3 linked regions of the Homo sapiens genome follow. The protein of the gene in region 1 interacts with the protein of each later gene in a pairwise test. Each region holds a gene or a part of one and is shown in the gene's direction. Other genes may lie near its edges. The genes, in order: CPSF6, UBAC1 and PPIL1.

Region 1 (11,020 bases):
TATTAATGGGAGAATCTGTAAGTTACGTCTGAACTTTCAGGTTGTCTTATAATTGTCTTTTTCCTTATGTCAGATGTTCTATGTCATAAGAATAAAATGGTTCACACCAATACAAGTACTTAGTTGTGGAAAGGGAGAGTAGAAGATAAAAATGGAGATTTTCCTGTGCTACAGGCTTAGTCAAGCTTATGGTCTATTTAATGGTTATCAAAGGCAATTAAATAGTGTTGAGTGTTCTGCTTTTACCTACATTTCATTTTTCATGTACTTAGTTACAAATTGAACCCTCTTCTATTTTTTTCCTGCTCCTGTTTCTGTTTCATTTTAGTTTTCCTTTTCCCTGATTATCATTTAGGCATGTAAGTGACACCCAGTAGCATTGCTTTAATTCTGCTGGTGACAGTGCCAAAGCTTTACTATACTCTTTTTGTTGTCTGTTGCTTTTCTCTTGCTAATTTGCTTGACTAGATAACTAAGAATTCAGGTAAGCATTAGCTCTTTGTTCACTGAGAATAATACAACTTGCAAGATAATTAATTTGGATTGTTCTACATGTATTTCGTTTATTTCTCTTTACCTTGTTCATTTATTACGACATTTTGAATTATTTACATACCCATATTTCTTCTTTCTTTTATGGCTCAGCTCACTATGCTTTTTTTTAATACTGGTAGCTTCCTCAAGGTTGGAAAACAAGATCTGAATACTATAGAAAATAATAACTATTTTTCTGTGGTCATATTAAAGATATAATGGCTTTGGATTTTGGGGTGATTTTTCTACTGTCAGTTTAAAAAAAACTTGTCTATTTGCATTTGTGTGTTATTACTTCTAGTTAAGAGTATTTCCAAGGAAAGTTTCATGTTACTTATTTTGTTTCCATGTCTTTTTCCAAAAGAACTTATTTTTTATATTATAATAAATATCAGTGGAAAAGTAGGTTTCGTTATATAGAAATTAACTTTAGGCTGGGTGCAGTGGCTCAAGCCTATATTTGGGAGGCCGAGGCAGGAGGATTGCTTGAACTCAGGAGTTCGAAACTAGCGTGGGCAATGTAGCGAGACCTGGTCTCTACAAAAAAAAAAAAAAAAAGAAAAAAAAGAAAAGAAATAAAGGAAACCCCCTTTTTTTGTTTTTTTGTTTTTTTTTGAGATGAAGTCTTGCTCTGTCGCCCAGGCTGGAGTGCAATGGCACGATCTTGGCTCACTACAACCTCCGCCTCCCAGGTTCAAGCGATTCTCCTGCCTCAGCCTCCTGAGTAACTGGGATTACAGGCGTGTGCCACCATGCCTGGCTAATTTTTGTATGTTTAGTAGAGACAGGGCTTCATCATGTTGGCTAGGCTGGTCTCGAACTCCTGACCTCAAGTGATCCACCTGCCTCGGCCTCCCAAGTGCTGGGATTACAGGTGTGAGCCACCACTCCCGGCAAGAAATTCACTTTTTAGACCTGTTCAAGAATACATCTATTGCATAAAGTGGAAAAAGATTTGTACTGAAATCCTTGGCCTTTTTCCATCAGATTTTTAAAACAAAAAGTTGAATTTGTATTCAAGTCTATTTTAGTAGTATTTTGACTTTTGTATAATCTAGAGCATTATTTCTGTATCTCAGGAAGCTGAATATGGTGGGCATGATCAGATAGATTTGTATGACGATGTCATATCTCCATCTGCAAATAATGGAGATGCCCCAGAAGACCGAGATTACATGGATACTCTCCCACCAACTGTTGGTGATGATGTGGGTAAAGGAGCAGCACCAAATGTTGTCTATACATATACTGGAAAGAGAATTGCATTATATATTGGAAATCTAACATGGGTAAGTGAAGTTAATATAAGAATTAAATTATTGGTAATTGATTTTGAACTGCTCTAGTAATTAATGTTTTTCTCCAGATTTTTATAAGTTTGAAGTTACTGTGTTTTTCTATATGTGTTTGCTTGTCCAATGAGGAGGGAAATACAAATATCTTTGCAACATCGTTAATTCGAATTCTTCTAGTTTTGAGTTTTGTGGTCATTCAACTTTTCTTGGTGGAGATACTAGTTAAATATAGTTAAATTAGTTTTGTCTTCAGTTACCTTTTTTATGCTACCACTTTACCTTGCTTCCGATAGCCCAGTTTCACTAAAAATAATGCTCACATGGGGTCTCAAACCAGGATTCAAGTGTAAAAGGAAAGAGACATAGTATCACTCCTGGTTTAAAAATAGTGTCCATTATTTAATTTGTGTTACAAATTTGAGTTTTATTTCTGCCCTTAAATTTGAAATCTGATTTATAGAAGCACTTCTGTGCGTATTATATTTTAATTTGGGTTGTCATGAGACTAAGATTATTGATTTAGAGCTTCATTAAATGCACATATGTATATTTATTTTTTATTAATATTACATCTTAAGTATCATTAAAATAGTCCTATAGAATGTTTGTATTTCTACTTAGTTATATGTATACTTGAAAGTTAAAAACTTGTATATGCAAAAATCAATAAAACTTGGCACCCTTGCATTTCCTTAATAACACTGTATTTTTAAACGTTTTATTTACATTTCTTTTTTTCAGGGGGAGACAGAATTTGCAAAACTCTGTCACCCAGGCTGGAGTGCAGTGGTGTAATCATAGCTCACTGAAGCCTCAAACTCCTGGGCTGAAGTGATTCTCCTGTGTCAGCCTCCAAGTAGCTAGGACCACAGGCATGTGTCACTCTGCCTGGCTAATTAAAAACAAAACAAACACTTTTGTAGAGCTGACTTCTTGCTATATTGCTTCAGGCTGGCCTCAAATTCCTGGCCTCAAGTGATCCTCCTAACCAAGCTCTCAAAGTGCTAGGATTATGGTGCCCAGCCTATTTACATTTCTTTTAAAACTAAATGTAACAGATCTCCCACCACCCAGTCTGAGTATTCTATAAAATTGGAGACAGTAGCAGTGTAGTTATGAAAGTATGGTTGCTAAGTAAGTATTTGGATCTTAGCTCCACCATCTATTATTAGTTTTGTGACCTTGTTAAAGAGTTAAAGCTCTTTAACTTCTATTGTATCATGTGTAAAATGGGTATAATAATAGTGCTTATATGGTTGTTATAAGAGTTAGTTGATACATAAAGTATATGGTAGATATTAAATACATGTTAGTTTTTTCTTATCTGCATTTTAATTCAAAAACAAGATGAAATTCAAAATACTTTCCTTTAATGGGAGGAAGTGAAATTGGTTTTATTCACAATTTAAAATCATAGCAGTTTAAAGCTGTAAGGGACCAGAAACTCTTGAGAGTCAAATCTTATTGTAACCCCAAGGGTATATACCTTCTAGTTTCTGAAATACTTATCAGGGAATGAAGTTAGGTTCCCAGATGGTTTTTGTGCTGTTTAAAAATTGGAGTCTGACTGGCCATAACTAGACTTAGATTTGCACTCAGCATTTATTTTCTCTTTTATGTCTCAAATTTCCCCTTAAAAACTAGACTGGGATAATAAAAATCTTGGTTTTATTTTAATGGTTAATGAGGGGGAAAATATCTTGCAGTGGACAACAGATGAAGACTTAACTGAAGCAGTTCATTCTTTGGGAGTAAATGATATTTTGGAGATAAAATTTTTTGAAAATCGGGCAAATGGCCAGTCAAAGGGGTAAGTTTTTTTTTTCTTTCTTTTTGATTTAGTAGCTAGTGATACAGTTTTTACAAGTTAACTTTCCTTTAAGTTAATGTTAATTACACATGTATACACATGTATACAAACAACACATGATTGTTTACATTGGAAGGAGGTTCTTGGGCAAAGATTGATACTTTTCATTTTACGTACCCTATTACCTAACACACTAAAACCAGTAGAGTGGAAATGTGGACAGATTTATTTTCTATTTTTCCCAAGTTTTCTCTATCTGTGGTTGAAATGGTTGTTGAAATGACAGTTTAAGAACCATTACTCTCCCTGTGATTAAGAGATGGGAGAAGATGGGCAACTGAATAATGTGTTACATGGATATTTTGCTTTATTTCACTACTAAACTATACAAGTGGGATAGCCTCAGCATGAGAACATTATAAATACAGATATCTAAAAGTAAGAAAATAAAATACCACTGTCCTACCATTCATTGATGTTTACTTTTAACATTTTAGTGAAGATTCTTTTGGGCTTTTTCCTAAAAATAAATAAATAAATAAATAATGGAATTATAATTCATGTGTTTTATATGTTTGATATAAGGAATAAAAATAAATACACATCCTCTCTAATGTCTAATTCTTTTGCATCATACCTGGTATGCTACTGTAATTTACCTTTCTTATTTTTGGTTATCGTGGTGGTTTCCACTTTTGCCTATTGTAAATAATGTTGCAGCAGACATCATTTTATATAAGTCTTTTGGTACAGATTTTGGATTTTCTTTTAAGGATAAATTGTTAGATGCACAATGATAAAGAATTTTCTTATTTCTTATATTGCTTACTTATCTTAGAAGATTATACCAATTTATACTAAACTGAGAATATTTTCAAAATATATGCAGAGTCTGAATACTTCTCACTAACTTTACTTATACCACTTGGTCAAAGCCACTATCATCTCTCACTTAAACTTTGGCAGTAGCTTCCTAACTGGAAGTATAGACTGCCCCCTACAGTCTGTACTCCACATAACAGAAGTTCTAAAAAAAAAATGACATTCTGCTCAATCTTCTCATGGTTTCCTGTCTGTCTCATTCTTTACCATTGTCTACAAGGTACTTTCTGGTCTGTTTTCCCACCACCTTTCTAACCCTATCCTACCACTCTTTTTCAGCCACATTAGTCTCTTTGCTGTTGGCCAGACCAATTCCTACCTAGGACCTTTAGCTGTTTTCTCTTCTTGGTTTACTTTTCCCCCTCAAATATCCACATGGCTTACTCTTTGACTTCATTCAGGACTCAAACTGTTTAAGAGTTTTCTTCCATGACCATCTTGTGCAAAGTAGCACCTTCCTATCCTGTTTCCTTTATTTCTGCTCTGATATATTTTACTCGTTTGTTGTCTCCTCTTCCAAGCCTTTAAGCTTAATGAGAACAGAGATTTTGTTTTGTTCTCTATTACTTCTCCAGCTCTAGAATGGTACCTTGCGTATAAGAAGTGGTGCTTAATAAATATTTGTTAAATTAATTTAGTTTTTTCTAAATGTTGTGACCCAAGATAATCCTGGTGCAAACAGCAGAACTTGTTGACTAAAATAAGAAGGATAATTTAAAAGATCATATTGAACATTAGGGGGAAAAGAGCTTAAGCTTCTTAAGCTACTAAGACCCTCCCTCCCTCAAATAATTTAGAATATCCTGTAACTATACGAATTGGTAATCATTCTGATTATTTTAAATTTGTTTTTCTTTTTGAGGTATAATTCATATGCCATAAAATGCAGGCTTTTAAATGTACAATTCAATGATAATTTATTATATTTATGAAGTTTAGCAACCATTACCACTGTCTCATTCCAGAACATTTCATCACTCCAAGAAGGAACCTTGTACCTGGTTAGCAGTCACTCCCATTTCCTCTCTTCCTATCTGCTGGCAACTGCTAACGTGCTCTGGATATGCCTGTTCTGGACATTTCATCTAAATGGAATCATAAAATACGTAGTCCTATGTGACTGGCTTTTTTCCTTAGCATAATGATTTTAAGGTTCATCCATGTTGAAGCATGCATCAGCATTTCTTTTTATGGCTGAGTAATATTCCACTACATGGATATAGCACTTTTTTCTTTTAATCTATCAGTCGATGGACGTCTAGGTTATTTCCACTTTTGGCTATTAAGGAAAATGCCCCTGTGAATATTTGTGTACCCATTTTGTGTGAACATGTATTTTCAGTTCTGTTGGATGTGTACCTAGGAATGGAATTACTGGGTTAATATAGTAACTCTATGTTTAAATGTTTGAGGAATTACCAGATTATTTGCCAGAGGCATTGTGCCATTTTATTAATACGTGCTCATCAGCAATGTGCAATGGTTCCAGTTTCTCCACATATTTATTTATTTATTTATTTATTGAGACAGAGTCTCACTCTGTCACCCAGGCTGGAGTGCAGTGGCGCAATCTTGGCTCATTGCAACTTCTGCCTCCCAGGTTCAAGCGATTCTCCTGTCTCAGCCTCCCAGCGTGGGACTACAGGCACACGCCACCATGCCTGGCTAATTTTTGAATTTTTAGTAGAGACGGGGTTTCACCATGTTGGTCAGGCTGGTCTTGAACTCCTGACCTCATGATCCTCCTGCCTTGGCCTCCCAAAGTGCTGAGATTATAGGCGTGAGCCACTGCACCCGGCCTCTCCACATCTTTAATACTTGTCTTTTTGATTATAGCCACCCTAGTGGGTATGGGGTGGTATCTTGTGGTTTTGATTTGCACTTCCCCAATAGTTAATGATATTGTACATCTTTTTATTGTAGCAAAAAGTGGAAGCAACCCAAATGTCCATGAACTGATGGATACATTTCTTTTAATGTTGTATATTTATAATGGAAAATTATTCACCCATAAAAGTAAGTGGTGATGCATGCTGTAACAGTGGATGAAGCTTGAAAACATGCTAGTTAAAGAAGGCTGGTCACAAGGGACCTCCTATTGTATGATTCCATTTAGATGAAATGTCTAGGATAGGCCAGTCCAGAGACAGAAATTAGGTTTAGTGGTTCCATAGGGTACAGGGATGGGAAGGAATGGGAGCGATGGCTAATGGATATGGAGTTTCTTTTTGGGGTGATGAAAATGTTTTAAAATTGATTATGGTGGTGGTTATAACACTGTGAAATACTAAAAACCACTGAATTATATATTTTGAATGACTGAATTCTATGGTATGTTATACAAGATGAACAAAAATGTGTACTCGTATAGTTAAGAAATATTTTTAGTTTTTAAAATTATTTATTTTTAGAGACAGGATCTCACTGTGTTGCCCAGGCTGGAGTGCAGTAGTGTGATTATAGGTTACTGTAGCCTCAAACTCCTGGGCTCAAGCAATCCTCGTGCCTCAACCTTCTAAGCAGCTGGGATTACAGGCATGAGCCACTGTGCCCAGCTGTTGTTTTAGATAAAAGCAGATTAAGACCTTTTTACAGAAGAATAACAGTAATAATATTGATCTCTTTTTACTTTGTATCCTCACCCCTTAAACACTTTTTAGGTTTGCCCTTGTTGGTGTTGGATCTGAAGCATCTTCAAAAAAGTTAATGGATCTGTTACCTAAAAGAGAACTTCATGGTCAGAATCCTGTTGTAACTCCATGCAATAAACAGTTCCTGAGTCAATTTGAAATGCAGTCCAGGAAAAGTAAGCAGTCCTCAGAGGCTTTTATTAAAATATGTACATTTTAACCAGTGCATTTGTTAGGTGTTATACTAGAGAAGTCATCTTAATACTAGCTCACTAGGAACTCCATTTCACAAAGTCCATGCTTTGAATTAGATTTAATCACTGGTTATGACTGTGGGCCTGTGTACGAGAAACCTACTCCTGTTCCATTTTTCTCCAGATGTAACAGACCCAATACTATACAACAATGTGCAAGTTCTATAGCCCTGCCATTCTTGTCCTATTATTTCCATCTTAGATACAGAAAGAAACTACATTCTAATTCTTAGATTAAAGGAGAGCTATGTGGATGTGTATTATGGTGGGGGAGAGATCACTGATAACCAGAAAATGTTCATTGATTTTTCTGCTTGGCAACAAGACCTTTCACCACTTGGTAAACTGAATATAGAAAAGATTTGTCATTATACATTTAAGTACATTATCTTTAAAGAGATGAGATGGATGATTATGTAATTAACAGAAATTCAAGTGGTTCCTTTTCTTTTAATGTTTTAGCACTTAAGACTTAACTGAAGAAGTGTGTTACAAAATTTAAATGATGTAATACTGAAATTAAGATATCTGTTGAAGAATTTCGGTCTTGGCTGCTGCAGAGTGCTGGTATTTTGAAAGTAACTCACGATTACCTATGGAAAATATATTTAAACCTGGATATTTTGAGTCTTTAAAAGTACCCAAATAGATGTGAATGTTTTCCTAAACCATACTTTCTTATGTAGTTTGCATAGGCACAAGGCATTTGCAAGTTAATATATTAGAAATAGAGTTGTTTTTAATAATAGTGGTTACATTTCAGAAAACTATTTTTAATAAGTGCTATTTATGAGTATTTGGATATTTGCAGCTACACAATCAGGACAAATGTCTGGGGAAGGTAAAGCTGGTCCTCCAGGAGGCAGTTCCCGTGCAGCATTTCCACAAGGTGGTAGAGGACGGGGCCGTTTTCCAGGGGCTGTTCCTGGTGGGGACAGATTTCCTGGGCCAGCAGGACCAGGAGGGCCACCCCCACCTTTTCCAGGTAAAACTTTTCTTAAATTACCATGGATAAAACATGTCTACCTAATACCTCTTTTCCTTTTCTCTCTTTTTCAAGTAATGCATTATTAATGTGACTTACTCTCCTTGTTATGCTATTTTTGGAATCCAGGAAATTTGATCAAGCATCTTGTTAAAGGAACTCGGCCTTTGTTCCTGGAAACTAGGATTCCATGGCATATGGGGCACAGCATAGAGGAAATACCCATTTTTGGCCTAAAAGGTCTTTATTTTTCTCCAAACTTGCTTGACTTATATATAGAATATTTACATCCGTCTTACTTTCTTACCTCTTAAAAAAATCCTTTCAAGATCATTTTTCCTTGTTTCACTTTCTAGCTTGGCATCAGAGTAGAATATAAGGTGGGTGATTTCACTGTAAGAAGTGTGTGTACACGGAAAGATGGAAAATATCTCTAGGCATTGTAATATTTTTTTATTAAAGTTTTCGTTTCAATAATTTTTCTTAAGCATAAATTGAGCTAGTTAAATTTGTAAGGATATACTTCATTGTAGTTGGTAGTGTAACATTTACCATACGGGTTTAATTTAAAGACAAAGACTTGGTGTATGCTCTATGCGTTTAAAGTATAATCTTGGCATATAAAAGTTAAAATATCTTATTAGTGAAGTGTTTTTTTTTCTCTCTTTCTCCTTTGTTTTTTAGCTGGACAGACTCCACCACGTCCACCCTTAGGTCCTCCAGGCCCACCTGGTCCACCAGGTCCTCCACCTCCTGGTCAGGTTCTGCCTCCTCCTCTAGCTGGGCCTCCTAATCGAGGAGATCGCCCTCCACCACCAGTTCTTTTTCCTGGACAACCTTTTGGGCAGCCTCCATTGGGTCCACTTCCTCCTGGCCCTCCACCTCCAGTTCCAGGCTACGGCCCCCCTCCTGGCCCACCACCTCCACAACAGGGACCACCTCCACCTCCAGGCCCCTTTCCACCTCGTCCACCCGGTCCACTTGGGCCACCCCTTACACTAGCTCCTCCTCCGCATCTTCCTGGACCACCTCCAGGTGCCCCACCGCCAGCTCCGCATGTGAACCCAGCTTTCTTTCCTCCACCAACTAACAGTGGCATGCCTACATCAGATAGCCGAGGTCCACCACCAACAGATCCATATGGGCGACCTCCACCATATGATAGGGGTGACTATGGCCCCCCTGGAAGGTAAGTTAGTGTGTATCTGTGAAAGTACTTGATGATAAAAGATAGGAACAATGACTGTAAATATTAGATTGTAGGTATATAAATATGTTATTTCTGCCTTCCAAGAAGATGAGGTGTTTAAGCTGCTACCCTGTTTTAGCTGAAAGATACTGGTATAGGAGAATTTTTAGATTTGTTCTCTTTGTTGGAAAAGTAGCATGCTTCAATATGGAAAAGTAACTACTATCTCTAAAGCACATGTCAGAAGCAGCTAGTATGAATTGCTATACACTGTTGTGACTAACTGAGGAAATCTGTTGAGTATGAGTTAAGGTTTATGTTTTTGTTTTACAGGGAAATGGATACTGCAAGAACGCCATTGAGTGAAGCTGAATTTGAAGAAATCATGAATAGAAATAGGGCAATCTCAAGCAGTGCTATTTCGAGAGCTGTGTCTGATGCCAGTGCTGGTTTGTGTATTTCTTGTATTAATATTTCTTATTTATGTTATTAGGAATGACCTAAAAATGTAAGTACAATCTAGAAGATAGGTCATTTACATGTAGTAGTTCTTTTTATATTCCCAAATCATTACCTACGATTTATTTAAAAAGCATTGAAAAAAGTTGTGTGTCACAGTGTAGTGGGGAAAATCCAAATTTTAAGTTATTTGGTATAGATTTAAGTCTTACCCTTGACATTTAATGGTTCAGGGGCCTCATGACACCTTATTTATTCTTATATTTGCAAAATGATAATGTGCTTCACACACGTATAATAAGTTGAGTCAATATCATGAGCATGAAAGGCTTTTGCAAATGGTGAAACACTGAAAGAAGACATTGTCTTGCATAGTTATTTTATAGCACAGTACTTTTGTAAAATGCCTTATCACTCTTATCCCAAGTGGTTTGATGGTGTTTTGAAAACAAAATTTGTTTGACTTCAAACCCTTTCCTTTCCCTCACAGGTGATTATGGGAGTGCTATTGAGACACTGGTAACTGCAATTTCTTTAATTAAACAATCCAAAGTATCTGCTGATGATCGTTGCAAAGTTCTTATTAGTTCTTTGCAAGATTGCCTTCATGGAATTGAGTCCAAGTCTTATGGTTCTGGATCAAGGTAAAACTTTCCTGTCTCATTTCCATTTAAAAAAACTGTTAGTTTACAAATGGAAAAAATACTGTGAGACTTTAAAAGGAGGACTTTGCTTTTACTTACTGATTATTTAGCAGCTGGAGTGGTTTTTTTTTTTAACTCTAAATGTTAGTTGCTTGCTTAAAACCCTTTAAAGGCTCCTACTCAGTCTTAAAGCAAGACTGTAAAGATTGAGGGACTGTGTGATAAAGCCCCTGCCTATCTTTTTAGCCTCATTTTGTACCTCTCCCCTTACTCACTGTTCTCCAGTGAGTATTTCTCCATATTTCTCCTTTTCTTTAGGTACACCAAATGTTTGACCA
Region 2 (11,020 bases), on another chromosome or scaffold:
GGACCACAGGTGTGTGCCACCACACCCAGATAATTTTTGTATTTATGAATTAATTTTTAAGTCAAAGTGACGTATGTTTTTAAAAGGTCGAATAATACTACAAATCTTTTAATAAAAATTAGCAGTCTTGGCTGGGTGCGGTGGCCCACGCCTGTAGTCCCAGCACTTTGGGAGGCTGAGGTGGGAGGATCACTTGAGTCCAGGAATTTGAGACCAGCCTGGGCAGCATGATGAAACCCTGTCTCTACAAAAAATATAAAAAGTTAGTTAGGCTTGTTGGCACAAGCCAGGCAGTGCACACCAGGCTGGAGTGTGTGGTACGATCTCACCTCACTGCAGCCTCTGCCTCCTGGGCTTAAGTGATCCTTCTCCCTTAGCCCCAGGAGTAAAGCAGCTGGGACTATAGGTGTGTGCCACCACACCTGACTAATTTTTGTATTTTTTGTAGACATGGGGTCTCACCGTGTTGCCCAGGCTGGTCTTGAACTCCTGGGCTCAGGTGGTCTGTTCACCTTGGTCTCCCAAGTGTTGGGATTACAGGCGTGAACCACCATGCCCGGCCCAACCACTCATAACTCTTGTTATTTTTAACAATTCTCTTCCTGATTTATAAATAATATGTGTATATTATTATTCCTTGAATGACCAACTTTAGTCTCTATTGACTTCTTAATGAAGAGGCTATAGTACCTCCCTCTCTCCTCCCTTGAGGGTTAGATCATAATGTTGAAGATCTCAGGGTTTTCATTACTAGTATAATTGAAGTGTGGTTTTCAGCTGTGAGCAAAATAGATTAAGATTATCTATCCTTCTTACACAGCTGTATTTTTCCTGGAATTAATATTTGCCTCTTCCTTTTGTTTGCTTGTTGAGTTTCTTATAGGCTTATCGCTGATTTTTTCATGCTCTTCCACAGAGCCGATAAAGCTTCTGGAAACGTGGTCACAGATGTTAGGTCACTGGGGTGTTCCCTCCCTCCAGATCCCTCTGGCCTGCGCATCTGTCTGAGTCGCTGCCTTCCAGGCCTGCTGCACAGCCTGGCTTTCCTGCCTCTTTCCCGTGTTAGAGTTTGCTAAGTCTATGCAAGTTTTCCGTTGCCACCTAACAAATCGCCACACATGTAGCTGCTTAAAACAGCACTCCGCTTGTAGCTCGCAGTTCTGTAGGGCAGAAGTCTGGCTGGGTGAGCTCAGCTGGTTTCTGTGCTCAGGGTCTCGAGCTGAAATCAGGGTGCCGGAGGGCTGTGTTCAGGGTGCTGAAGGGCTGCCTTCCTTTCTGAGGCTGGGGAAGATTCTGCTTCTGAGGTCTTCCGGCGGTTGGCAGAGTCCAGTTCCGACCCATTTTCTTGCTGGCGGCCAGCTGGGGGCTGCTCTCAGGGCCTGGGCGCGGCCTGCATTCCTACCCGCACAGCCTCCTCCTCCTTCAGAGCCAGCAACAGGACTTCTGAAGTGTTGAATCTCTCTTTCCAGAAAGAGACCCATCCCTTTTAAGGACCTGCCTGATTAGTTGAGGCCCACCAAGGATCATACTCTTTCCCCACAGTCGGCTGTGCCGCGTGATGTAACCTGACCCCAGAGTGGACTGTGTCCTGCTCATGCTGTGCAGCCACGCACGGGCAACTGCCAGGCCCGGGGAGCGTGCGGCCGTCCTCGAGTTCTGCCTGCCGCAGGACCAGGTGTCTTGTTCTTCTCGATCTGTCCCTTGGTCTGGTGGAGCCTGACTTCCTCGGGTGCCAGGAGGGGAAACTGTCTGGAGGCCTCGTATTCCAGCGCAGCAGCTGTGGAGGGGGTGCCAGCCGTATGCAGTACGTGAGGCAGCTCTGAGCCGCTCCTCCCTGCACCAGCCGCCTCCCCTTCCTCTGCTCCTTGTAGAACCTTCTGCCATCTGGTGTGCTTTAGTGTTCTGGAATATTCCATGGTGTCTCTGCTGCAGGTCTTTTTCTCTTTGCTATGTCCGGCACATTGACTCTGGAGATTCAGATGTTTGAGTTCTGGGAAATTTAGTCCTGGAAAATGTTCTGAATTGGTTTTTTGATCTCCTTGTTTTCTTTTCTCTTTCTGTAACTCTTATGAGTTGGCTGGTAGGCGTGTTTTCTGAGGGATTCCTTGATTTTATCTTCTAAGCATTCTGTAGCCTCTTTGATCTGGCTGTAACATGTTTAAATTCCTAGGCCAGTTCTCCTCCTCAGATGATGTCTTCTAGTGTTCTGGTGTGTTCCTCCGTGGGCCGTCTGTCCTGGCTCATAAACACTATCCTCTTCCCTGCTGACTCCTCACTTTGTGCTGCTTTCTGTTGTTCCTTTTTTTTTTTTTTTGAGATGGTGTCTCACTGTCACTCACCCAGGCTTGAGTGCGGTGGTGTGATCTCAGCTCACCTCCCAGGTTCAAGTGATTCTCCTGCCTCAGCCTCCCGGGTAGCTGGGATTACAGGTGTGCACCAGGACACCGGGCTTATTTTTGTCTTTTTAGTAGAGATGGGGTTTCACCATGTTGGCCATGCTGGTCTCGAACTCCTGACCCCAAGTAATTCACCCACCTTGGCCTCCCAAAGTGCTGGGATTACAGGCATGTGTCACCTTCCAGAGGCCCTGGATCTTGATAGCAGCGCTTTGGGACTGGGTGGCTGGCTGGGGCACTGCGCTTTGGGTGTGGACCCTGCCATTTTGCCCCCTCCCACCTCTTGGCTGTGTCTGCCCCGCTCCCCTGCCACTGGGTCTCCCTGTGGAGGGTGCTGGGGTGCCGCTTTCCCTCTCATGAGCCTAGGGCTCCTGGCCCGGGGTCTCAAGCCCAGCTCTCTGGGAGTTGCCGGCAGGACTGGATGGCAGGGGAGCACAGGGCAGGGTGGCGGGGGATGGAGCGCTAGCTCCTGAGGCTCGCTCCTTGTCCCCTGCCACCGATGCAGTTCTAGGAGGCTGGAATGGTCTTGCGTCCATGCTCTGCTCTTGGCCTGAGCCTTTGTAGCTCCGCTGATCCCTCCATCCTCGTCCTCTGCCGTCTTCTGAGAATGTGCTGTCACTCTTCCGGTTCTGTTCCTCTCCCATCACTTTTGTTCTCGTGAGTTTCTACTGCCATGACTGCCCTTCAGGAGCTTCCAGAAGGAGCAGAGATGAGTTCGTGGTTTTGGCCTCGGGGCTCAGCTGCAGCCTGGGTGGTTCTTCTGGAGTCGCCTCCCTTGCCCCAGCCCTGCCACGGTCCCTGTGTGGTTGTCGTTCTGTGACCCTTGCTCCTGCTCTGCCCCTCACCTACCGCTTCACTCTTATTTACGTCAGAGCAGACGCTGAGGACACGTCTGCTGTCCCTGGGCCTTGCACAGAACTCTCCAGGCTCCCCCAGCTCATCAAGGAGTTTACACCTCTGGCTCCTAAAGGAGACGGAGTCTTTCTTGGGCAGAGCTCCGCTGATTCAGTTGTCATCGTCTTTTTGCTGCTCTTACGTTCACCTCAGACTTTCTGATTACGTTTCTGTGTAGAAAAAACAAGACCAGAAAGCTCCAGATAAAGAGGCCATACTGCGGGCCACCGCCAACCTGCCCTCCTACAACATGGACCGGGCCGCGGTCCAGACCAACATGAGAGACGTGAGTGTCAGCCCAGAGCGGCGGCGGGTGCATGGGGTCCCCGTGTGGGGGATTGCTGTGGGGGGGTTCCTGCGGGGCGGGGCAGCAAGAGGAGATTCTCTGGGAGGATTTGGGGAAGCCGGTGAGCGGGTCTGTAGGACTGCACTATTTTGCATTTTTTCTGTAAATCAAAAATTATTTCCAAGTAAGAGTTGGAAAGCCATCTGAAGGCAGGATTGAAAAGATAGATACCCCTGGGAAAACGTCAATCCGGCCCTGAGTTTGGCAAAACGTTTAGATAGAATTCTGAACCCGAAGCGGGTGGATCACCTGAGGTCAGAAGTTCGAGACCAGCCTGGCCAACATGATGAAACTCCGTCTCTACTAAAAATACCAAAAATTAGCCGGGCGTAGTGGCAGGCACCTGTAATCCCAGCTATTCAGGAGGCTGAGACAGGAGAATCACTTGAACCCGGGAGGCGGAGGTTGCAGTAAGCCGAGATTGCATCATCGTACTCCAGCCTCGGCAGCAAGAGCGAAACTCCGTCTCAAGAAAAAAAAAAACACACAAATCTGAACCCGTGAGTTATTTTGGGTCAGAACATTCTAAGTTAAAAAAGAAAAGTGTTTGCAGTGCTCACGTGGACGCCGCAGCAGGCAGGGCAGGCACGTGCTGTGCCGGGGTGGGAGGACGGCTGGCTTCCAACTTCATCTGATGCCAGTCCAACCTAAGGGCACTGCTATAAGCCCTGTTTCATTTTAGGAATGAACCTCTTGGGGTGTCTTCCAGAGAGTTCTGTGCTGACCAGGGCATGGTGGCTTTTCCCCAGCAGCCAGCATGTGTGTCTCCCATCCTGTGTGTGTCCGGCTCAGAGGTATTTCTCTAGTGTGGTGTCCGCACCAAGGCTCACACTTGTGTGAGAGTAGGGACAGCTGACGCCTGACCTCTAGGCCCTGTAGCCAGGAGCTGTTCTGGAGGGCATCTCCGGTCCATCCCACGGCTCCTCCTGCCTGGGGAGGACAGTGATGGCCGCCGCAGACGCTGTGTGGCAGCCATGCCTCCACTGGGGGCTGGCAGACTCATGGGGGTGGAGCCTCAGATGATTCTGTTTTCTTCAGTGAAGCCAGAGAGGGTCTTCAGCTTGCCCTGCACCTGCGCCAGCTGGGCCGACGGTTTCCTCACAGGGCACAGGCTGAGTATCGGGCCAGCACTGAGTGACCGTCACCAGGCGTTCCTGTCCCTTTCCACTGGCTTCAGTCCCACCTGCAGGGAGGCTCTTGGCCCTGCCAATCCCCTGCCTTGCCCTCAGCTGATCCTGCTGTCTTGCAAGAAAGCAATGTCATCTCAACTCTCAGAATCAAGAGTTCTAGGACAGGGGAGCAAGTCATAGATCCAAGTAGGTTTGGTGGACATTTAGAGAATTGATCTCCTTTTTTTTCACCACAGTTCCAGACAGAACTCCGGAAGATACTGGTGTCTCTCATCGAGGTGGCGCAGAAGCTGTTAGCGCTGAACCCAGATGCAGTGGAATTGTTTAAGAAGGCGAATGGTATGAGTCAACCCCGATGCTGCATTCCAGGGCGGTTCACTGCCGGCCTTGGGGAGCGTCTGCAGCTCCACGCACTGACCACTGACCGGAACCTCAGTGCTTTATGGAAGCGCTGATGAGGGCCTGGGGCCTGCCTCACCGGCAACTCCTGTTGATGTGCCTGAGGGCGGGCAGGTGGAGCTCAGACAGATAATTGCTGCAAATGTTTGTGCTCAGATAAGGCCCCTGAACCTGAGGCTGGAGCCCTCATGGCCCTGTCGTCTCCCTGCAGCAATGCTGGACGAGGACGAGGATGAGCGTGTGGACGAGGCTGCCCTGCGGCAGCTCACGGAGATGGGCTTTCCGGAGAACAGAGCCACCAAGGCCCTTCAGCTGAACCAGTGCGTGGGGGGCCACCTCCTTCCCTTGCCGGAGACACCTGGGGCCTGGTTTTGTGGGGCTCCCACCGTGGGTGACGTCCTCCTACCCTAAACTCTTTGACTGAATCATTTCTAACGTGGGGTTTTGAAGAGGTACCTTAAATATGTGCCTCCAAAGTGTTTTTGGGGTGAATGTGACAGAACAGTCGTTGTGTAAATTCTCTTTGGGCCGTTGTATGAGAACTCAAGGTGAATCCCGTTCGTAGCAGGGACACGGCCTCTAACAGTCTTCTCAGGATTCCCGTGTGAGTTACTTGCCCTGCTTCTGTGTTCAGATCTAAAATGAATAATCCGAGATCCAGGGGCAGCCGGGGGCAGTTCCCCCTGTGGTCCCTATCTAAGCCCTCAGCAGATATCTCTGGGTCCGCTTGCCTCTCCTTAGACATGGGCTTCTGATTCTGCCCAGGGTCTCAAGGTAGTCTGAGGCAAGGACCAGCGCTTCCGTCGCACCTGTGTTCATTCAGGTTCTTGTTATAAGGGTCACCAGCTGATGCTGGAGAAGTCACTACCATAGCAGAGGCTCTTCTTGGGAATGGACAGGAGGCGAAGGCCCTGGTCCGTTAGTCTGGGGATGTTGGAAAGAGTCTCTTGCCTTGCAGCATGTCGGTGCCTCAGGCCATGGAGTGGCTAATTGAACACGCAGAAGACCCGACCATAGACACGCCTCTTCCTGGCCAAGCTCCCCCAGAGGCCGAGGGGGCCACAGCAGCTGCCTCCGAGGCTGCCGCGGGAGCCAGCGCCACCGATGAGGAGGCCAGAGATGAGCTGACGGAAATCTTCAAGAAGATCCGGAGGAAAAGGGAGTTTCGGGCTGATGCTCGGGTATGTGTTACTAGACCTGTCGCCAGGCAGAGTCGCTGTGTCTTCCCTTGAGGTGGCGCCATGGAAAGGAAGCTGGGGCTGCATGGCTGACCTTGGGCTGAGCTGGCTCCTGTCCCAGGAGAGAGAGAAGCTGGGGAAGGGGTTTACAGGTGGGCCTGGGAAATGGCGAGCCTGGGGGCGGTGGGCCTGGGGACCGTGGCCCGAGTTTCTGAGCACACCTGTAAGTTATCCTGGCTTGAATCCAGGCGCCCCAGTTTCCTCTGTGTTGCCACATTCGTCACCTTTTGAAAAACTTGATATTTTACAGTTCCTTCTGACCACTCATCCACAAGCCCCCCCTGTTCGGCAGCCTCTCTGCGGGGTGGGGGCCCTGCCCAGAGACCGGGAGGGTCATTTGCCGTCGGGGGTGTCCATGAGCGAGGGGCCGCTCAGGCTGCCAGCCGCCTCCATGGCACAGTCTGCAGGGCTGAAGGGTCCCTGCGCCTGTGTGTGTGGACCTTCCTCGCCCGCGCCTCATCTCCCCATTCTTCCTTCTCTCTCCTGTTCTTTGATTCGGGTTTTACTTCCTCCTTGGAGGTTTCTGTCTGTCTCCGACATGCTCAGATGGCAGATCTGCTCCATCTGCATGCTGTCGTCTCGTGTGGCACTGATCGTTTCCTTGGGGTGTGTGACATTGTGCTGTGGCCTCACCTGCGGAGCTCGTGTTTTCCATGGAGTTCCATGTGGCCAGGCTGTAGACATCCACCTGGGGTGATTCTGAGTTTGCTTCTGCTGGTGATGAGTGGGGCCCCTGCCCCACCATGTCCCGCAGTGTAACCCCCGGCTTCGCAGCTCAGGTCTTCCCTGCACAGGGTTCCGTGGAGACAAATGCTTTTCTTTGTTTCTTTTAAAATTTAATTTAATGTTAAGTTCTGGGATACATATGCAGGATGTGCAGGTTTGTTACATAGGTAAACATGTGCCATGGTGGTTTGCTGCACGTGTCAGCCCATCACCTAGGTATGAAGCCCAGCATGCACTAGCTATTTTTCATGATGCTCTCCCTCCCCCAGACCCCCTGATGGGCCCCGGTGTGTGATGTTCCCCTCACTGTGTCCATGTGTTCTCATTTTTCAGCTCCCACTTATAAGTGAGAACATGAGGGGCTTGGTTTTTTGTTCCTGTGTTAGTTTGCTGAGGACAGTGGCTTCCAGCTTCATCCATGACCCTGCAAAGGACGTGATCTCGTTCCTTTTTATGGCTGCATAGTATTCCATGGTGTATATATCCCACATTTTCTTTATTCAGTCTATCCGGTTTCTTTTCTTATCCGTGGGCATTTGAGTTGATTCTATGTCTTTGCTATTGTGAGTAGTGCTGCAGTGAACATACGTGTGCACATATCTTTATAACAGAATGATTTCTATTCCTTTGGGTATATACCCAGTAATGGAATTGCAGGGACAAATGGTATTTCTGTTTCTAGGTCTTTGAGGAATCACCACATGTCTTCCACAGTGGTTGAACTAATTTACATTCCCACCAGCAATGTAAAAGCGTTCCTATTTCTCCACAGCCTCACCAGCAGCTGTTGTTTCTTGACTTTTTAATAATCATCATTCTGATTGGCATGAGATGGTATCTCATTGTGGTTTTGATTTGCATTTCTCTAATGATCAGTGATGTTGAGCCTTGCTCTGTCGCCCAGGCTGGATTCTTCCTGCCTCAGCCTCCTGAGTAGCTGGGACTACAGGCACACACCCACCACGCCCAGCTAATTTTTGTACTTTTAGTGGAGACAGGGTTTCACCATGTTGGCCAGGCTCGTCTCAAACTCCTGACCTCAAGCGATCTGCCCGCCTCGGCCTCCCAAAGTGCTGGGATTACAGGTGTGAGACACTGCGCCCGGCCAACTGTCTTCTTTTGAGAAGAGTCTGATCATGTCCTTTGCCCACTTTTTAATGGGGTTGTTTTTTTCTTGTAAATTTGTTTATTCCATGTAGATTCTGGATATTAGACCTTTGTCAGGTGAATAGATTGCAAAAACGTTCCCTTCTGTAGGTTGTCTGTTCACTCTGAGGGTAGTTTCTTTTGCTGTGCAGAAGCTCTTTAGTTAGATCCCATTGAGACAAATGCTTTTCTAGTCTATTTTCTCATCTTTTCAGGGTCCTGTTTTAAGTAAGGGTCTCAGTTCCCACTCCCTACCTCCCATGGGCCCAAGGCGCACGTTCTGTCTGTGTGTAGACATCAGACCCCGCCCTCCCAGGGCAGCCCCTGCGCACACCCTCTCCCAGGGCTAGCTTTCTGTCTCTTCCTTCTTGGGTTTCTCACTTGTGGATATCCCTTTCTTGTGAGGTTAGCTCTGCATGTAAAAGTTTCTCTTTTTTTTTTTTTTTTTGAGACAGTTTCACTCTGTCACCCAGGCTGGAGTGGCGGTGGCACAATCATGGCTCACTGCAGCCTTGACCTCCTGGGCTCAAATGATGCTACTTCAGCCTCCTGAGTAGCTCTTACAGGCACGCACCACCACACAGGGCTAATTTTTTATTTTTTAAAATTTTGTACAGATAGGGATCTCCCTGTGTTGCCCAGGCTGGTGTTGAACTCCTGGCCTCAAGTGATCCTCCTGCCTTGGCCTCCCAAAGCGCTGGAATTACAGGCATGAGCCATTGTGCCTAACCTAAAAGCATTTTTGTTTTATTTTCATCTAGCATTTCTAGGTTTAGCAGGAAGTTTGTCTCGTTGTGCTTGTCTCCTAGGGAGCCAAGTTTACATCTGATCCTGGAAGCCTGTCCAAGTGGAGCAGTCACTCTCCAGCTGGGTCCCTTGTGCTCTGAGGTTGGACTTCGCACTCTCGTGTGTTGTGGTCCTGCACGGTCTCTTGGAGGTTGTTAGTCATATACTTTCTTGCCATCTTAAGCCTTTTTGTTAAATATGGATGCTCATTCTTAACAATCTTAACGTGCTCGTTTTCCTAAGATCTTCCCCATTGCCATTCCCTCCCGTCATCTCTCTGTGTCAGAACAACATTCCGTAGAATGTCTTCTTTGATGAAAATCATCACAAGGTGGTCAAGGCTTGAGGGGCCAGCCCATCAGTCCTCCTAGCCTTTGGTTTCTGTACAAGTCATGAGATCAGGCAGTCGTCCAGTAGGGATCGAGATACTAGCTTTGTTACTGAGAAAGGATTGGAGAGCTCTGACTTGAGGCCAAAACAGATTTCCTGCTGCCCCTCCCTTCCCAGTGGTAGACAGGATGCCTGCTGTCCGGGGGCAGAGCTGGCAGGGCCCGACGTCCTGCAGCCCGTGAGCGCAAGGCCCCTCTCCCATTGCCCACAAGCAAGTCTTTGCCCCCATGGGCTGGGAGGGAGGGCAGGGACTGCCAGGTGTTGCCTTGGGAGTACTGGGGCATCATTTCCTGGGCTGAGGTAGAAATGAGCGACAGTACTTCCTATTGAAGCTAGTGAGGAGGGCATCCTGTCCTTGAATTCAGTAGATTCCAGGCTATTCTGTATGACTTTGATATCAAAATATTGTGCGGTGGGTTCTTCCAGAGTTCATTGTTGGAGCTCCTGGATTAGGGTGTGGCTCAGGAAGGCAATTGTGATGGACCATAAATAGAAAATACAGAGTTTTTTCTTTTTTGAGATGGAGTCTCACTGTGTCGCCCAGGCTGGAGTACAGTGGTGCGATCTTGGCTCACTGCAACCTCCACTTCCCAGGTTCAAGCGATTCTCCTGCCTCAGGCTCCCGAGTAGCTGGGATTACAGGTGCCCGCCACCACGCCCAGCTACTTTTTGTATTTTTAGTAGAGATGGGGTTTTCCCATGTTGGCCAGGCTGGTCTCAAACTCCTGACCTCAAGTGATCCTCCCACCCCGGCCTCCCAAAGTGCTGGGATTACAGGCGTGAGCCACTGCTCCCGGCTGGGACTTTTGACCTGATCATGCACACAGTTTAGCTCTAGCCAGCATCCTTCCTGAGCTCCACCCCAGCTGAAGTCTTTTTCTGCCAGGTTCTCTTGGAAGCATCTGATGGTGCAGTCCAGACTGGCTGTGGACGTGCACCGTCCGCGGGGTGCAGTGCTGCATGAAGTCAGCCTGGGTGGTGCTGGGAGCTGTGTGGGGCTGGCACCCCTAGACCACCTTATGGTGGCCGGAAAACTGCCAAAGATGGAGAGGACTCTGGGGGCTTCAAGAGAGTGGGATCTGACCTTTCAGGGATTAGGAGAGGCCCTTGAAATTTTGATGAAGCCTTCATCTTACTTATTTATATTTTTTCAAAATGGACCCCTTTAAACATTGTGGTATAAATCTCCAGAGTAGAGGATGTATTATCTTGTTACATGAATTGTGTCCAGAAAATGTATGTCCTTCCCCAAAAACGAATTAGCATATGTTCAGTTGTAGCTTAAGTTTTGTTCAATATTAAAAGTTAAAAAATTAGTTTTAGGATTTTTTTTTTTTTTTTTTGAGATGGAGTCTCGCTCTGTCGCCCAGGCTGCAGTGCAGTGGCGCGATCTTGGCTCACTGCAAGCTCCGCCTTCCAGGTTCATGCCATTCTCCTGCCTCAGCCTCCCGAGTAGCTGGGACTACAGGCGCCTGCCACCACGCCCAGCTAATTTTTTTGTATTTTTAGTAGAGACGGGGTTTCACCGTGTTAGCCAAGATGGTCTTGATCTCCTGACCTGGTGATCCG
Region 3 (7,495 bases), on another chromosome or scaffold:
TCGGGAGGCTGAGGCAGGAGAATTGCTTAAACCTGGGAGGCGGAGGTTGCGGTGAGCCAAGATGGCACCATTGCACTCCAGCCTGGGCCACAAGAGCGAAACTCTGTCTCAGAAAAAAAAAAGGAATTAAAAAAAAAAAAAAACACAGATCATAAAGAAGAAGGTTAAGAAATGTTAACTGCAAAGGTTCTGTTCATTGGAAGATCCCATTACAAGAGTGAAAAAAGTTAACTGGGAGAAGGTATTTGCAAAACATTCACTGACAGAGGATTAGTATCTATAGTATATAGTTGAGCCTTTACCAACATGGGTTTGAACCATGGAGGTCCATACAGTTTTCTCAGAGCCCACAGCGGGACTTGAGCGAGCAGGGATTTTGGTGTCACAGGGATCCTGGAACCAATCCCCTGAGTATACCAAGGGATGACTGTATGTATCAATTCCAAAATGTCATACCACTGAGTGGCCGTTCACAGAGGGGACAAGCTAAATAAGCCAGTAAACATGAAATTATGCCAAACTTCAGAGAAATGCAGTTTAAAACACCACAAGAGGTCTCACACTTCTCAGACTGACAGAAGGACCTAGAGCAGTAAGAGTGAGAGTGCTGCGGGGTGGGGTGCATGTTGGTTCATCCTTTTCAATAAGGCACTTAGAAAAATCTAGCAATGATGAAATACTCAAACTATGACCCTGTGTATCCCCTGTGAGGTATTGGCCCCCGAGAGCTCTTGCACTTGGATTTCGGAGACAGTATAAGAATAGTTTTTATAGCATGGTCGATAATAACCAAAACATTGGAAAGATCCTCAGTATCAACACCAGAAAAGATAAGACAGAGCATTATGGTCATACAGTGAGGTGAACACTACAGAGACCTGCCTGGAACAAAGTAGATGAGTCTCTCAAACAGTGTTGAGAATATATAAAGTGTAATACCACTTATGTAAGCTTAAAAACATGCAAAACAACAATACTTTTTTTTTTTAGGGGTACATAGATGTGTAGTAAAAAAGCTTAAAAACATGCAAAACAGCAATACTTTTTTTTTTTTTTTTTTAGGGATACATATATGTGTAGTAAAAAAGAAAATGCATGGAAATGCCAAATTCTTGTCAGAATAGTGGTTACCTGAGAGGAAAATGTGATTCTTTGAATCAGCTGTTAGCTCTCAGGAGAATGAGTGGTGGGGAGAGATGCAGTGGGGTGTATGCATGGGGTCTTAGCTGGATTTGCAATAGTTTATTTCTTGGGGGCGGAGGTGGTCATAGATATTGGTCATATTATTCTTTGTATGTTTGCGTGTCTGAAATAAATACATTGAATAAATGATCCCAAGAGAGGACAGAGGACAGAAGAGGAAAAGAATCTCTTTTTTTTTGGAGACAGACAGGAGTGCAATGGCGCAATCACAGCTCACTCTAGCCTCGACCTACTGGGCTTGAGTGATCCTCTCACCTCAGCCACCTGAGTAGCTGTAGCTGGGACTGCAGGCACGCACAACCACGCCTGGCTAATTTTTGTAGAGACGAGTTTCACCATGTTGCTTAGGCTGGTCTCAACTCCTGGGCTTAAGAGATCCGCCCCCTTCAGCCTCCCAAAGTGTTGGGATTATAGGTGTGAGCCACTTGTACCTGGCCAGAAAAGAATCTTGAAGGTTCTTTTCTAACCTGTAATCAAAGGTTAGAAAACAGGTCTTGGCCGGGTGTGGTGGCTCACACCTGTAATCCCAGCACTTTGGGAGGCCGAGCCTGGCAGATCATGAGGTCAAGATTGAGACCATCCTGGGCAACATGGTGAAACCCCATCTCTACTAAAAATACAAAAATTAGCTGGGCATGGTGGCGGGCGCCTGTAGTCCCAGCTACTCAGGAGGCTGAGGCAGGAAAATCACTTGAACCCGGGAGGCAGAAGTTGCAGTGAGCCGAGATCGCACCACTGCACTCCAGCCTGGTGATAGAGTGAGATTCTGTCTCAAAACACACACACACACACACACACACACACACACAATAGAAAACAGGTCTGCCTATCTTCATTGTGTCTGTGCTAGACCAGGCACAGAACCTGCAAAGCTTCCAAATTGTTGGCTTTCTAACTGATAATTGACATCTGAGTAGCATGCTCTGCACTGGAGAACTCTTTAATCATTCTCTGTCCCTCTGCCACCTCTCACTTATTCCACGTGCCCAGAGGAATGTTTGAATTAGAATGATTTGTCTTTCTGAAATTTTGCCGCAAACCCTACTGAGTTGAATTGGGTTATGAAAAGATAACATATTATGAGTAAGATATTATGAAAACTCTGCCTATTGAGTAAAGGTGATCTCCATGCTCTTTCCTCCTGTATCCTCTGATTCCCACTTCATCTGTGACTTTTTTTTTTTTTTTTTTTTTTTGAGACAGGGTCTCACTCTGTTGCCTGGGCTGCAGTGCAGTGGTGCGATCTCAGCTCACTGCAACCTCTGCCTCCCAGGTTCAAGCGATTCTCCTGCCTCAGCCTCCCAAGTAGCTGGGATTACAGGCACGTGCCACCACGCCTGGCTAATTTTTGTATTTTTATTAGTGATGGGGTTTCACCATGTTGGTCAGGCTGGTCTCAAACTCCTGACCTCATGATCTGCCTGCCTCGGCCTCCCAAAGTGCTGGAATTACAGGTGTGAGCCACCATGCCCAGCCCATCTGTGACTCTTGACTGACCTATTCCTTAATGCACTTCTTGTTTGTGGTGATGTTTGTGTGATAGTTTACCATTCCTAGAGGGCAGGGTCCTGGGGGGTTTGTTCTGGTAGCCCTCAGGTTGCAGGGATCACACTTTGAAGCTCAGGCCACAGACTGACAGCGTACTACTGAACTGAATCCTTAGCTTGCTCACTCAAGTCCTGCACGCAGAGCCTGGCCTCTGTGGCGTCTGGCCCCACAGCCCTCTCCCTAGTCTCTGGTAACCCCAGCCAGGAACCTTGACTCTCTAGTGGTTGCCAAAGGACCAAGCAAAGGGGAGGATTGAGTCAGAGGGAACATATTGGTTATATAATTGCTGTTTGGAAGTATACTGACAGGTTGGAATTTTTGGAATGAGTTTTACACAGTTTAGTGTGGTTCAGTATTTTTCCAGAAGCATAGGTAGCCTGGGCCAAGTGGGAGGTTTCCCCTAGTCTGTTAGGATTCACCCCCATCCCTCTTTGCATGAGAACAGTGTTTTCTTCCGGAAAAGAAACGGGGGCTGTGACAGGCTCCCTGTGGTGAAGCCGACTAAAAGGTAAAGCAAAGGATTTTTGCCATGGAAACACCTTAGCCATGCCCAGGGGCCTTGGGGGTGGACTTGGTGCTACTTTTATAGCAGGCAGTAGAGGAAGTGAGCTGCCAGCACTGGGCTGCAGGGCAAGCAGAGTACCAATCCAGTGTTTACTTTGTTCTAGGCTGTTTTGTCGTGACCGTTCAACTTGGAGAAACCAATGTAGTTCAGTAAGGCATATGATTGACTACATAATTGATTAGTATTGGTTAGGAAAGTTGCCTCCTGTTTTGACATGTTTTCCTGTGAGAAAACCATGTTTAACTTACATCTTTTTTTTTTTTTTTTTTTTTTTTTGAGACAGTCTTGCTCTGTCGCCCAGGCTGGAGTGCAATGGCATGATCTCGGCTCACTGCAACCTCCACCTACTGGGTTCAAGCAATTCTCCTGCCTCAGCCTCCCAAGTAGCTGGGACTACAGGTGTGTGCCACCATGCCTGGCTAATTTTTTTTTTGTATTTTTAGTAGAGATGGGGGTTTCACTATGTTGGCCAGGCTGGTCTCGAACTCATGACCTCGTGATCCACCTGCCTTGGCCTTCCAACGTGCTGGGATTATAGGCATGAGCCACCGCGCCTGGTCTAACTTACATCCTTTTGCTCTTAGAGCAAAACCTGCCTGAGCTTAGGGTATCCAGCCCAGCACCCTGCTCTTGTGGGCATAATATAAATAACATTTGGTGGTGATGCTGCTAGCAAATAATTCCCAATCCCATGTTTCTTCATTTTCCCTTTATTCATTTATTTAGAGTCAAGGTTTTGCCTCTTGCCTAGACTGGAGTATACTGACATGATCATAGCTCACCGTAAACTCAAACTCCTGGGCTCAAAGCAGTCCTCCTGCCTCAGCCTCCTAAGGAGCTGGGACTACAGGCATGTGCTACCACATCTGGCTGAATTTTAAAATTTTTTTGTGAGCCAGGTGCAGTGGTTCACGCCTATAATCCCAGCACTTGGGAAGCCAAGGAGGGAGGATTGCTTGACGCCAGGAGTTTGAGACCAGCCTGGGCAACGTAGCAAGACCCCATCTCTAAAAAAAAAAAATTTATGGAGTCAGGGTCTCGCTCTGTGGCCCAGCTCAAACTCCTGGCCTCCAGCAGTCCTCCTGCCTCAGCTTCCCAAAGTGCTGAGATTTTAGATGTGAGCCACCACACCTGGCCCTGTTTTCTCTTAATGATGTACTGCCTCACCTCTCAGTGGACTCTGCCGACCGTAATGTCCCTTTCTGCCACATTGCCACTTACCAGCTATTTCTCCTTCAGCTGGATAGCTTTAACTTAAATGAATTTTATTTTCCATCACCTAGGTTAAGGGTGGCAAATAGGTTTCAACTCTGGGGCTATTACTGATTAATTAATAACGGCTGCCTGAGTTCTGGGTTGATAACATTCAGAGGCAAATCTAGCTCAGCAGGGAAGAATACTGATTGATTGGCAATGTCTGTGATGGGCACAGGGATAGGACTTGGGGCACTCATGTCTAAAATACTCAAAAAAAGGTTAAAAATCAAGAAACCTCTTAACACATCAGATTATGAATGGTGGTTATCTCTAGATGGTCAGGTTACAGAGGATTTTAATGTTCTTTTGATAATGTTCTATGTTTTCTACCTTTTTGATAGTGAACATGTATTATTTTAATGTGCAGGAAAAAATAGCGTTATTTTGAAAAGGAAAGTCTTATCGGAATGAAACCAATGATTTGAATGTGCTATTAGTGCTAGATTCTGTAGTTGCAATATACCTAGCAGTGGGGTAGGTGTCACTGCCTTTTCCTTTCCTCTACTCTGAGAAATCCTTTGACCCTGGGCCATCATTCTTGCTGTGAGATAGAATGTGTGACTGGCTGATTCATGTGTCATCTTCCAATCGGGCAGGTCGAGGTGGTGCATCTATCTATGGCAAACAGTTTGAAGATGAACTTCATCCAGACTTGAAATTCACGGGTAAGTGTATAATTTGGCTGGACTGGGTAGGAACGGGGATTTTAAAAGCTCACTCTTTTGGCCATGATTCAAGGTGAATGCCTGACACCGTGGCATGGTGCCAGATAGCTGCCCAGCCATGGCGCCATGAAGTGCCCTGGTGGATTAGAGAAAGCAGCGCCTCTCACAAAGTTCTGAGCAATTCAGAGCACTGGTCGGTGTGTTCTAGACTCTAACTACTTGTTAAAGGTCACAGGATATCAAAAGTGTCCTCAAAGAAACAGGAAACCTTGCTGGGTTTTTGAGGGCAGTCAGGAACATGGTCCACAGTTAGTGAGGAGCATCAGGGGTCAAGGCTGGGGAATAGGTGAGGACAAGGAAGATGAAGTCGCCAGAATAGTGTAGTGATGGCCTTTGTACAGGGCAGAGAGACTGCCCTGAGGGGTTGTCTGGGTCTGGACAGAGGCCAGAACAAAGTCCTGGCTGCTTTTTCATCCCTAGGATGGGGCAGCAGCTCTACACTGGACCTGTGGGGTTATTTATACTCTTTCCTTTCTTCCTTTTTCCCACCAGGGGCTGGAATTCTCGCAATGGCCAATGCGGGGCCAGATACCAATGGCAGCCAGTTCTTTGTGACCCTCGCCCCCACCCAGTGGCTTGACGGCAAACACACCATTTTTGGCCGAGTGTGTCAGGGCATAGGAATGGTGAATCGCGTGGGAATGGTAGAAACAAACTCCCAGGACCGCCCTGTGGACGACGTGAAGATCATTAAGGCATACCCTTCTGGGTAGACTTGCTACCCTCTTGAGCAGCTCTTCTGAGATGGCCCCAGTGAACCAGCTTCTAGATGACATAGAATGACATGTAATGCTAAATTCATTTTGGCTTTGCAAGTCATGAAGCTTAGGAGGCCTGGCATCTTGGGTGAGTTAGAGATGGAAGTACATTTTAATAGGATGCTTCTTTTCTCTTCCCCCAGTGCCTAGGTTGCCAGAGCATTTGCACAAATGCCCCTGTTTATCAATAGGTGACTACTTACTACACATGAACCATAATGCTGCTTCTTGTGCATGTCTGCTCTGATATACGTCGAACAATGTAGCAGCCACTGTCATTTCTCAGTGGTTTTGCCTAACCAAACTTCTTCCTAAGGAGATTTATATTCTGGCCTACACAGCAGTCCTTGATGGCTGACAGCCACAGAATTCCAAACCAAGTAGTGTCTGTCAGCCCTCTTAACTCTGTGCACGCCCTATTTCAGTCTTTTACATTTGTTCTTCTAGGGAATGTATGCATCTCTATATATATTTTCCCTCTCAAAACCAGAACATCAACAGTGCTGTTTCTGACACTTCAGACATCCCACGCAAAGCCACATTGAATTTTTGCCAAATGAAAAACACATCCAACAATCAAGTTTCTAAGAAGGTGTCAAGTGGGGAATAATAATAATGTATAATAATCAAGAAATTAGTTTATTAAAAGGAAGCAGAAGCATTGACCATTTTTTCCCAGAGAAGAGGAGAAATCTGTAGTGAGCAAAGGACAGACCATGAATCCTCCTTGAGAAGTAGTACTCTCAGAAAGGAGAAGCGCCACTCAAGTTCTTTTAACCCAAGACTTTAGAGAAATTAGGTCCAAGATTTTTATATGTTCAGTTGTTTATGTATAAAAATAACTTTCTGGATTTTGTGGGGAGGAGCAGGAGAGGAAGGAAGTTAATACCTATGTAATACATAGAAACTTCCACAATAAAATGCCATTGATGGTTGAAATTGCTGCTGTGGTCTGATTCTAAATATTGTATGAGGTTCCAATGGTCATTTTAATCCCAGTCATCTTAAGTAGTAGTACAGAGATTGAATGTTCAAGATTTCACATCATTTTAGGCTTGTGGATCTCCAGTAGACTTCTCCCTCTTTAAGAGCAATTCTAACTTTAAAAGGGCAGAACCAGAGAAAGAATTAAGTGACAGAAATTGACATTTCTGAATAAGAGGTGTATTCATCTGTTTTCACATTGCTATAAAGACACTACCTGAGACTAGGTAATTTATAAACAAGAGAGGTTTAATTGACTCACAGTTCCACATGGCTAGGGAGACCTCAGGAAACTTACAATAATGGTGGAAGGCAAAGGAGAAGCAAGCACCTTCTTTACAAGGTGGCAGGAGAGAGAGCGAGCACGGGGGAAACCACCATATTTAAACCATCAGATCTCATGAGATCTCCCTCACTATCGTGAGAACAGCATGCAGGGGGAAAATGCCCCATGA

Evidence for each region.
Region 2: the proteins of CPSF6 (region 1) and UBAC1 interact in a two-hybrid assay, tested with the Homo sapiens proteins (2 studies listed by BioGRID and IntAct).
Region 3: the proteins of CPSF6 (region 1) and PPIL1 interact in binary tests that used the Homo sapiens proteins (3 or more experiments, as listed by UniProt).

The regions. Positions count from the first base shown.
Region 1 is NC_000012.12:69,249,516-69,260,535, forward strand, and holds part of CPSF6 (cleavage and polyadenylation specificity factor subunit 6), read left to right. Parts: intron 1-1,613; coding exon 1,614-1,823; intron 1,824-3,535; coding exon 3,536-3,639; intron 3,640-7,181; coding exon 7,182-7,327; intron 7,328-8,216; coding exon 8,217-8,390; intron 8,391-8,519; coding exon of another isoform or gene 8,520-8,630; intron 8,631-9,074; coding exon 9,075-9,579; intron 9,580-9,912; coding exon 9,913-10,028; intron 10,029-10,528; coding exon 10,529-10,682; intron 10,683-11,020. UniProt on the Homo sapiens protein: Component of the cleavage factor Im (CFIm) complex that functions as an activator of the pre-mRNA 3'-end cleavage and polyadenylation processing required for the maturation of pre-mRNA into functional mRNAs.
Region 2 is NC_000009.12:135,940,354-135,951,373, reverse strand, and holds part of UBAC1 (ubiquitin-associated domain-containing protein 1), read left to right. Parts: intron 1-3,468; coding exon 3,469-3,576; intron 3,577-5,002; coding exon 5,003-5,105; intron 5,106-5,376; coding exon 5,377-5,485; intron 5,486-6,123; coding exon 6,124-6,346; intron 6,347-11,020.
Region 3 is NC_000006.12:36,854,329-36,861,823, reverse strand, and holds the end of PPIL1 (peptidyl-prolyl cis-trans isomerase-like 1), read left to right. Parts: intron 1-5,169; coding exon 5,170-5,238; intron 5,239-5,790; coding exon 5,791-6,011; 3' UTR 6,012-6,995; downstream 6,996-7,495. UniProt on the Homo sapiens protein: Involved in pre-mRNA splicing as component of the spliceosome. PPIases accelerate the folding of proteins. Catalyzes the cis-trans isomerization of proline imidic peptide bonds in oligopeptides. Catalyzes prolyl peptide bond isomerization in CDC40/PRP17.